Linked DNA regions of Homo sapiens. The protein of the gene in region 2 purifies or fractionates together with the protein of the main gene of each other region. This does not show direct contact. Each region holds a gene or a part of one and is shown on either strand. Other genes may lie near its edges.

Region 1 (3,651 bases), on a different chromosome or scaffold from region 2:
TTGCAGCAAGGTTGCCTGTGGAGTGCAAAGCCACAGTGGTAGGAGGGGAAGCCAGAGCCGTGGGAGGGGCTAGCTATGGACTGCATGCCTCTCCCTACGACTGAATTGAGCATCCTGTGAAAGGTTTGCAGTGGGGGAGGGACACAGACTGATTTGTGCTTTGGGAAGGACACTCTGGCTGTGTGTGTATAGAAGCAATGAAGGGGAAGGGGGTGCAGGGTGAGGAGTCAGAGACTAGGCGGAGGCTGCTGAGGTGACTGCTGTTGGGATGGGAAGAGCAGCTCAGATGCCTTTCTTTTCTTTTCTTTTTTTTTTGGGAGTCTCACCCTGTCCCCCAGGCTGGAGTGCAGTGGCATGATCTCGGCTCACTGCAACCTCCGCCTCCCGGGTTCAAGTGATTCTCCTGCCTCAGCCTCCTGAGTAGCTGGGACTACAGGCGCGTGCCACCACGCCCGGCTAATTTTTTGTATTTTTAGTAGAGATGGGGTTTCACCGTGTTAGCCAGGATGGTCTCGATCTCCTGACCTTGTGATCCGCCCGCCTCGGTCTCCCAAAGTGCTGGGATTACAGGCGTGAGCCACTGCACCCTGCTAGATGCTGTATTTTCTTATGGGGAGGGTCTGTTAGCAGGGGCCATCCTGACACTGCCTTGTGGCCAGGAAGGAGACAAACGAAGGCTGGCGTTTCTTTTTCTTTCTGCGTCTGCCTTACGTTGTGATCTTTGTTTAAAACTTATTCAGAATGGAAATGCTAAATTCCAGAGTAACAAAGAGTTTGTTGAACTCGTTAGAGTTACACATGATAGGATTTAACATTGTATTGAGATGTGTCAATAACATTCATTTACTTAGAAACGTCACATCTTCTGGATTTCCAGAGGAGTTTTATTCTTGATAAGTTTGCTTTCTTGATGAGGGAAAGTTTAATCCAGCTGCAGTTTTTCTTTAAAAAAAAAATCATCTATCTTAAGAAATATAACATTTAAAGGTTAGATGTATTTAAAAATGATAAAAGGAATACTTTGGTACAGTTTCTTTGGTTTCTGAGTTGATTAGGGACTCAGAAGCCTTTGCATTATTTAGTGGTATATCCTTGCCAATATTTAAAGAGCTGTTAGTGAGCACCCCAGGCCCTGCTCTCTGGAAGCTTTCCTAAAGCTTGCCCTGAAATAGCGAGGATGAACGTCTTGTTTGCTAAAGCCAAATGGTTGGCTAATAAGACTCAGCATAGCTGTCTTTATAAAATAATAAGAGGTTTGATGTTAAGAAGTGGAAGATAATTGATTTTTTTAAAAAGCTGAAACATAAACTTCCTTATGCTAATGTTACAACTGGAAAATCTAAAAAGAAAAATCCAACTGTAACATTGCCTACGTGAAAGACATGGTAGAAGTCCTTACGTACCGATCACCTTTAAACAAATTGCTTGGCAGTACATTTTTGAAATTAAGACCACTCCAGCTCACATAACTGGCAATGATTATTGCTGACTTAAAATTATAGAGCCTACAGTTGCCTTCTTAGCATTTTTAGTAGTGAGAGAATTGAATAGTGCTTAGTCAGAGTGCTTTCTGGGTGGGAGTTGTATAGTAATAAAGATACATTTTCATGTATTTTCTAGACATTACAAGAAGCGGTGCCAAGGCCGCATGCGGAAGCACGTGGGGGACCTGTGCCTGCAGGCAGGGATGCTGCAGGACTCCCTGGTGCATTACCACATGTCGGTGGAGCTGCTGCGTTCTGTGAATGACTTTCTGTGGCTTGGAGGTAAGATGAGCTGATGAAGATGATCTGATATGTAATTGTTTCAACTGTTAATTAAAATGAGAGGCTGGGTGCGGTGGCTCACGCCTGTAATCCCAGCACTTTGGGAGGCTACGGCAGGCCAAATATGAGGTCAAGAGATTGAGACCATCCTGGCCAACATGGTGAAACCACGTCTCTACTAAAAATACAAAAATTAGCTGGGCGTGGTGGCACGCGCCTATAGTCCCAGCTACTCGGGAGGCGGAGGCAGCAGAATTTCTTGAACCAGGAGGCAGAAGTTGCAGTGAGCAGAGGTTGCACAACTGCACTCCAGCCTGGCAACAGAGCGAGACTCCATCTCAAAAAAAAATAAAATAAAATAAAAAAAGAAATGAGAGGAAACGGCAGAAGAAATTCCCCAAAAAGAAGGGATGAGGGAGGAAAAGCAGCCAGCCTGTGCTGGTTGCCACGAGCAGTGGCCTGGGATGCTTCCCTGCTGTATCTGCTGCCCTCCTCCCACCCTGCCATGCGTCCTCTGAAGGAGGCCCTGCCCACACTTTCCCTTTTCCTCTGTTCTTAGTATACCTTGCCCTCTGCTTTGGATGCCGTTCCCCATGATCTTCACCTCTTAGACTCCTCCCTCAAAACCTCCTCCATGTGTCACATGATGAATGGATAAACGAAATGTGGTATGGGCATACAGCGGAATATTATTCAGCCATGAAAAGGAGTGAAATTGTGATACCACTGCAGCACGGATGAACCTTGACAACTTTGTGCTAAGTGAGAGAAGGCAGGCATGAAAAAGGCCGCAGATTGTATGATTCTATATATATGAAGTGGCTAGAATAGGCAAATCTATAGAAGCAGAAAGTAGACAACTGGTTCTAGGGGCTGGGAGGAGGGGGAATGGGAAGTGACAGTTAACGGGCATAAGGTTTCTTTCTGGGGTGATGAAAATGTTCCAGAGTCAGTTAGTGGTGATGGTTGCACAGTTGTGAATATACTAAAAACTGCTGACTTGCACACTTTAAGTGGGTGAATTATATGGTATGTGAACTCTATGTCAATCTTAAAAATTAAAAGAAAGGGAAGAAGAAATCCTACTTCAAAGCACAGCCATCTCTGATCCCCCGCAGCAGTCGGCAGAGCGGGTGCCCTGCCTGAGATGTTGCTGACACTTCGTGGTGGAATCGGATGTCTGTGTGTGGTCTTCCCTTTGGGGACTGCGCCTCCTGGAGGTGGTCCTGGGAGGATGGACTGGCTGAGTCCATTGTGTGGGTAAGGACTAAAACAGGGTTCTTTCGTTGAGGTTGACAGTTTAGCAAGGACACCTGTCAGCCACTTATGATAATACAAGTCGGAATGAAGTAATGAGGTGAGTTCTGTAACAGAAGTTTAACGAGGTGCCGTAGAACATATTAAATATAACAAATTCTTTCGTTCTTGGGGACGGAGTCTCGCTCTGTTGCCCAGGCTGGAGTGCAGTGGCATGATCTTGGCTCACTGCAATCTCCGCCTCCTGGGTTCAAGCGATTCTCCTGCCTCAGCCTTCCGAGTAGCTGGGACTTACAGGCATGCACTACCACACCCGGCTAAATTTTCTATTTTTAGTAGAGACGGGGTTTTGCGATGTTGGCCGAGCTGCTCTTGAACTCGACCTCAGCTGATATGCCTGCCTTGGCCTCCCAGAGTGCTGGGATTACAGGCATAAGCCACTGTGCCCAGCCAAATATAAGAAATACTTCAAACGGCCAGGCATGGTGGCTCATGCCTGTAATCCCAACACTTCTACAAAAAATAAAAAATAAAAAAATCTTACTTCACCTCACTTCTACAAAACAAAATTAAAAAACATTAACTGGGTGGAGACCAGCCTGAGCAACATAGGGAGACCTCACTTCTA
Region 2 (3,651 bases):
GGCCTCGTTTACAAATATTTCTGAGCATCCGTGAGGTGCCAGGTACTTCAGATTCCTTGGTGAACAGGAAGGACATGGTCTACCCCTTATGCAGTTCAGTCTGATGGCGGAGGCATGCAAAAGTGAACACAGCATTGTATTATGCATTATATGTAAGCTCTGGCCGGGCGCAGTGGCTCACACCTGTAATCCCAGCACTTTGGGAGGCCGAGGTTGGAGAATTGCTTGACACCAGGAGTTCGAGACCAGCCTGGCCAACATGGTGAAACCCCATCTCTACTAAGAAAACAAAAATTACCTGGGCGTGGTGGTGCATGCCTGTAATCCCAGCTACTCGGGAGGCTGAGCCCAGGAGTTAAGAGGTTGCAGTGAGCTATGACCACACCACTGCTCTCCAGCCTGGGCAACAGAGCAAGACTCTCTCAAAAAATAATCATAACAAAAGTAATAAATAAGCTCTGAACTGGGAGAAATGCCTTGAAGGAGAAGAATCAGACGAATGTTGAGTGTCTAGTGATCTTCAAACCCAGACCGGGAGCGTGGGTGGGACAGTGGTGTAGACCGGGAGCGTGGGTGGGACAGTGTCTGGTGTAGACCGGGAGCGTGGGTGGGACACGGTGTCTGGTGTAGACCGGGAGCGTGGGTGGGACACGGTGTCTGGTGTAGACGGGGAGCGTGGGTGGGACGGTGTCTGGTGTAGACCGGGAGCGTGGGTGGGACACGGTGTCTGGTGTAGACGGGGAGCGTGGGTGGGACGGTGTCTGGTGTAGACCGGCAGCGTGGGTGGGACACGGTGTCTGGTGTAGACCGGGAGCGTGGGTGGGACGGTGTCTGGTGTAGACCGGGAGCGTGGGTGGGACACGGTGTCTGGTGTAGACGGGGAGCGTGGGTGGGACGGTGTCTGGTGTAGACCGGCAGCGTGGGTGGGACACGGTGTCTGGTGTAGACGGGGAGCGTGGGTGGGACGGTGTCTGGTGTAGACCGGGAGCGTGGGTGGGACACGGTGTCTGGTGTAGACCGGGAGCGTGGGTGGGACGGTGTCTGGTGTAGACCGGGAGCGTGGGTGGGACACATTGTCTGGTGTAGACCGGGAGCGTGGGTGGGACGGTGTCTGGTGTAGACCGGGAGCGTGGGTGGGACACGGTGTCTGGTGTAGACGGTAAGCGTGGGTGGGACACGGTGTCTGGTGTAGACCGGGAGCGTGGGTGGGACGGTGTCTGGTGTAGACCGGGAGCGTGGGTGGGACACGGTGTCTGGTGTAGACCGGGAGCGTGGGTGGGACACGGTGTCTGGTGTAGACCGGGAGCGTGGGTGGGACGGTGTCTGGTGTAGACCGGGAGCGTGGGTGGGACACGGTGTCTGGTGTAGACGGGGAGCGTGGGTGGGACGGTGTCTGGTGTAGACCGGCAGCGTGGGTGGGACACGGTGTCTGGTGTAGACCGGGAGCGTGGGTGGGACGGTGTCTGGTGTAGACCGGCAGCGTGGGTGGGACACGGTGTCTGGTGTAGACGGGGAGCGTGGGTGGGACGGTGTCTGGTGTAGACCGGCAGCGTGGGTGGGACACGGTGTCTGGTGTAGACGGGGAGCGTGGGTGGGACGGTGTCTGGTGTAGACCGGGAGCGTGGGTGGGACACGGTGTCTGGTGTAGACCGGGAGCGTGGGTGGGACGGTGTCTGGTGTAGACCGGGAGCGTGGGTGGGACACATTGTCTGGTGTAGACCGGGAGCGTGGGTGGGACGGTGTCTGGTGTAGACCGGGAGCATGGGTGGGACACGGTGTCTGGTGTAGACGGTAAGCGTGGGTGGGACACGGTGTCTGGTGTAGACCGGGAGCGTGGGTGGGACGGTGTCTGGTGTAGACCGGGAGCGTGGGTGGGACACGGTGTCTGGTGTAGACCGGGAGCGTGGGTGGGACGGTGTCTGGTGTAGACCGGGAGCGTGGGTGGGACACGGTGTCTGGTGTAGACCGGGAGCGTGGGTGGGACGGTGTCTGGTGTATACCGGGAGCGTGGGTGGGACACGGTGTCTGGTGTAGACGGGGAGCGTGGGTGGGACACGGTGTCTGGTGTAGACGGGGAGCGTGGGTGGGACGGTGTCTGGTGTAGACGGGGAGCGTGGGTGGGACACGGTGTCTGGTGTAGACCGGGAGCGTGGGTGGGACACGGTGTCTGGTGTAGAATGGAATGGGAGTGTGTGTTTGTGACATGGTGTCTCACGTAGAAGGAACAGCAAGGTCTTGACATTGGAATTGGCTGGGCTGTTAGAGGAAGCGGGAGCTGGTTTTCTCCTGGGGTAACTGCTCCAAATGGTGTTTTCAGATGCCCCCTGTGGCTCCCAGTAACCTCACGTGGGGAATGGTGGTCAGGGAGGAGCCGGGCGCAGACATCCCAGTGAGGGGCAGAGCCAATGGCCTGGCCATGGTGCCCGGGGATTGGGTCAGAGGAGGTGGTGGAAGGTGAGAGAGAGGAAGCGAAAACCACGTCCCCATCCCCAGAATTCTTGGCCTGAGCCCTGGAAAGCTGAGCTGTTGCCTAAGACAAGGCACGCTGGGATGAAGCAGCCCCATGGGCTGGGCGCGGTGGCTCACGCCTGTAATCCCAGCACTTTTGGAGGTTGAGGCGGGTGGATAACTTGAGGCCAGGAGTTCAAGACCAGCCTGGCAACATGGTGAAACCCCGTCTCTACTAAAAATACAAAAATTAGCCTGGCGTGGTGGCACACGCCTGTAATCCTAGCTACTTGGGAGGCTGAGGCAGGAGAATTGCTTGAACCTGGGAGGAGGGGGTTGCAGTGAGCGGAGATCACACCACTGCACTCCAGCCTGGGTGACAGAGCCAGACTCCATCTCAAAAATAAAAATAAAAAACTGAAACAGCTGTATGATGGGTGTGTGGAGTGTGTGGAGTCCCAGACACCCGAGAGATGTGCCTGTGGGGGCTCTGCGCGGCAGGCAGAGGTGACAGGCCGCGGCCTGGTCTCTGTCCCGCCCCCAGGGCCTAGATCTAGGGTCCCTGGCTGCCCTCTGCTGGTACTCCCGGCCCCTTTCCCTCACCCAGGCCAAGACTAAGGGGCTGCAGAGCGGGGTGGACATTGGCGTCAAGTACTCGGAGAAGCAGGAGCGGAATTTCGACGATGCCACCATGAAGGCTGGCCAGTGCGTCATCGGGCTGCAGGTGGGCGACAGCTCCCCCAGCCCCAGGGACCACGGCATTGGGGGACCACGGTGTTGGGGGACAGCAGCATTGGGGGACAGCGGCATGGAGCCCTGTGGTCCCTCAATTTCAGGGAGGGACCGGAAGCTTGTTGGGTGCAGTCTGACCTCTCCCACGAACCTCCCTGCAGATGGGCACCAACAAATGCGCCAGCCAGTCGGGCATGACTGCCTACGGCACGAGAAGGCATCTCTATGACCCCAAGAACCATATCCTGCCCCCCATGGACCACTCGACCATCAGCCTCCAGATGGGCACGAACAAGTGTGCCAGCCAGGTGGGGCTCGCCCGGGTGCCCCCGACTCCTCTCCCTGCCCCTCTACACCCTGTGGTCTCGGCCCCTCCCTGGGGCCACCTCCAGCTTCTCTCCCCACTCTCAGTCTCAGCCCCTTCCCTAGACCACCTCCGGCTTCCCTCCCCGCTCTCTGTCTCCGCCTTGG
Region 3 (3,651 bases), on a different chromosome or scaffold from region 2:
TAGATATCTTTAATCAGTTTTGAAACTTCTCAGCCATTCTTCTAAAATATTGATTCTCCTTCATTCTCTCCTCACCTTCTAGAATTCCAATTAAATGTATGTTAGACCCTGCTCTATCTTTCATATCTCTATACTCTCTTCTGTGTTTTTCATCCTTTTGTCTATTTTTCCATGCTTTATTCTGAATAGTTCCTTCTAATCTACCTTCCAATTAACTAATTTTCTCTTTAGCTATATCTAATTTGCTGTAATTAATTACAGTTGCCATTTTTATCCTAAAATTTCTATTTCATATTTTTGTATCTGCCATGGTACTTCTTATGGCTTTTAATTCCCTGCTAACTATTTAAAGTTCTTATTTTATCCTGTGAATATGATATTCCTAGTTATTTTATTTTTAATTTTTATTATTTGTTAATCTTATGTTTTATTTACACTTCTTTTCTGTGACATGAGCACACACAGATTCATGTGTATACATATATGGCTCTGATACCTCTCCTTTCCTGTCCTCATTCAAACCACTGATCACAGAGAGAGGACTATTTTTTTTTATTTTTAATTTTTCTATTTCAATAGGTTTTTGGGGGAACAGGTGGTGTTTGGTTACATGAATAAGTTCTTTAGTGGTGATTTTGGTGCACCCATCACCCAAACAGTGTACATTGTACCCAATGTGTAATCTTTTAACCCTTGCCACACCCCACCCTTTCCCCGCAGTCCGCAAAGTCCCATGTATCATTCTTATGCCTTTGCTTCCTCATAGCTTAGCTCCCACATATGAGTGAGAACATACAATGTTTGGTTTTCCATTCCTGAGTTATTTAATTAAAATAATAGTATCCAATTCCATCCAGGTTGCTGTGAATGCCATTATTTTGTTCCTTTTTATGGTTGAGTAGTATTCCATGGTGTGTTTGTGTGTGTATAACATTTTTCTTTATCCACTCATTGATTGATGGGCATTTGGGCTGGTTCCATATTTTTGCAATTGCAAATTGTGCTGTTATAAACATGTGTGTGCAAGTATCTTTTTTGTATAATGACTTCTTTTCCTCTGGGTAGATACCTAGTAGTGGGATTGCTGGATCAAATGGTAGATCTACTTTTAGTTCTATAAGGAATCTCCACACTGTTTTCCATAGTGGTTGTATGAGTTTACATTCCCACCAATGGTGTAAAAGTGTTCCCTTTTCACCACATCCACACCAACATCTATTATTGTTTGATTTTTTATTATGACCATTCTTGCAGGAGTGAGGTGGTATCACATTGTGGTTTTGATTTGCATTTCCCTGATAATTAGGGATGTTGAGCATTTTTCCATATGCTTGTTGGTATTTGTTTTTTTTTTTTTTTTTTCATTATTATACTTTAAGTTTTAGGGTACATGTGCACAATGTGCAGGTTAGTTACATATGTATACATGTGCCATGCTGGTGTGCTGCACCCATTAACCCGTCATTTAGCATTAGGTATATCTCCTAATGCTATCCCTCCCCAATTCCCCCCACCCCGCTTGTTGGTATTTGTATATCTTCATTTGAGAATTCTCTGTTCATGTCCTTAGCCCACTTTTTGATGAGATTTTTTTTTTCTTGCTGATTCGTTTGAGTTCTTTGTAGATTCTGGATATTAGTTGGATGTATAGATTGTGAAGATTTTCTCCCATTCTGTGGGTTGTCTGTTAACTCTGCTAATTATTTCTTTTGCTTTGCAGAAGCTTTTTAGTTTAATTAAGTCCCATCTATTTATCTTTGTTTTTGTTGCATTTGCTTTTGGGTTCTTGGTCATGAAGTCTTTGCCTAAGCCAATGTGTAGGAGGGTTTTTCCAATATTATCTTCTAGAATCTTTATGGTTTCAGGTCTTAGATTTAAGTATTTGATCGATTTTGAGTTGAATTTTGTATAAGGGGAGAGAGAAGGATTCAGTTTCATTCTTCTACATGCAACTTGCCAATTATCCTAGGACCATTTGTTGAATAGGGTGTCCTTTCCCCATTTTATGTTTTTGTTTGGTTTGTCAAAGATCAGTTGGCTGTAAGTGTTTGGCTTTATTTCTGGGTTATCTATTCTGTTCCATTTGTCTACGTGACTATTTTTATACCAGTACCATGTTGTTTTGGTGACTATGGCCTTACAGTATAGTTTGAAGTCTGATAATGTAATGCCTCCAGATTTGTTCTTTTTACTTAGTCTTGCTTTGGCTATGTGAGCTCTTTTTTGGTGCCATATGAATTTTAGGATTGTTTTTTCTAGTTCTGTGAAGAATGATGGTGGTATTTTGATGGGAATTGCATTGAATTTGTAGATTGTTTTTGGGAGTATGGTCATTTTCACAATATTGATTCTACCCATTCATGAGCATGGGATGTGTTTCCATTTGTTTGTGTCATCTATGATTTTCTTTCAGCAATGTTTTGTAGTTTTCCTTGTAGAGTTCCTAGTTATTTTAAAGTCTGTGTTCGGTCTTTCAGCATTTAAAGTTTGTAGGTTTATTACTATTTCTCTTCTTTCTGTTGGTCATAACTCTTAGTGTTTTGTTTCCTTGTGTGCCTGGTTACATATGTGCTGGTCATTGTATTTGAAAATTATGTGTGAAATAATTTGAGGTTTTGGATTATGTATATTCCTCCAGAAAGAATTTCATTTGCTTCTGTGCATTTCTTAGGAACATTACAAGTCCTTCTTCTCAGTTAATTTTCGTAGTATCTTTATCAGATAGGTGCTATTACAACCACTCACTTAGCAGATGAAAATCATGAGGCTCTGAGAGTCTAAGTCATCTACTTAGAATTGGACAATGGTGAAGCCAGGATTCAAACCCACATCAATAAGAATCCAGCGCTCTTAACAAGGGGCCAGTACACTTTTTTAAAAAATAAAAGGCTAGATAGTAAATATTTTAGACTTTGTGGACTGCACAGCCTCTGTTGCAACTACTCAACCCTGCCTTTGTAGCATGAATGCAGTCATAAACTATACATAAATGAATGAGCCTGGATTCGTTCCAAGGAAACTTTATAAAAACAGGTGGCAGGCTGGATTTGGCCCATGAGAAGTGTAGTTTACACAAAAGTTGAGCAAACCAATTTTTTTCTGATTGTTTTTCCTCTTCTCAGTGTAAGAAGAAGCTTGGGAAGCTGCCACCTCAGTATGCCCTGGAGCTCCTGACGGTCTATGCTTGGGAGCGAGGGAGCATGAAAACACATTTCAACACAGCCCAGGGATTTCGGACGGTCTTGGAATTAGTCATAAACTACCAGCAACTCTGCATCTACTGGACAAAGTATTATGACTTTAAAAACCCCATTATTGAAAAGTACCTGAGAAGGCAGCTCACGAAACCCAGGTATGCTATCCCCACATGGCTTAGCTCCCCTATGTAAATGAACACCTGGATACAGGTACAGTGCCTTGGAAATGGAGGAGGTGGGAGGGCTCCCCACTTAGTGAGAATCTCCTGTTGCCCATCATTGTACTGGGCATTTTACTACTGCCATCTGTTTTAAACACCTACCTCCAACCCTGTGAGGCAGGCACTATGCCAATTATTTTACAGGTGAGTAAACTGAGGTTCTGAGAGGTAAGGAGCTTGTCCAACCCTTAACAGAAAATGAGTAAAATAGCTGCAGTTTGAACTGAAATAAG

The links.
Region 1: the proteins of CNN2 (region 2) and TRAPPC9 purify together in Homo sapiens (affinity purification with mass spectrometry, with the first as the bait; one large-scale study listed by BioGRID). This does not show direct contact.
Region 3: the proteins of CNN2 (region 2) and OAS1 purify together in Homo sapiens (co-immunoprecipitation; one large-scale study listed by IntAct). This does not show direct contact.

What each region holds. Positions count from the first base shown.
Region 1 is NC_000008.11:140,437,167-140,440,817, reverse strand, and holds part of TRAPPC9 (trafficking protein particle complex subunit 9), read left to right. Parts: intron 1-1,620; coding exon 1,621-1,766; intron 1,767-3,651. UniProt on the Homo sapiens protein: Functions as an activator of NF-kappa-B through increased phosphorylation of the IKK complex. May function in neuronal cells differentiation. May play a role in vesicular transport from endoplasmic reticulum to Golgi.
Region 2 is NC_000019.10:1,033,075-1,036,725, forward strand, and holds part of CNN2 (calponin-2), read left to right. Parts: intron 1-2,992; coding exon of another isoform or gene 2,993-3,055; coding exon 3,056-3,172; intron 3,173-3,341; coding exon 3,342-3,488; intron 3,489-3,651. UniProt on the Homo sapiens protein: Thin filament-associated protein that is implicated in the regulation and modulation of smooth muscle contraction. It is capable of binding to actin, calmodulin and tropomyosin. The interaction of calponin with actin inhibits the actomyosin Mg-ATPase activity.
Region 3 is NC_000012.12:112,913,387-112,917,037, forward strand, and holds part of OAS1 (2'-5'-oligoadenylate synthase 1), read left to right. Parts: intron 1-3,122; coding exon 3,123-3,352; intron 3,353-3,651.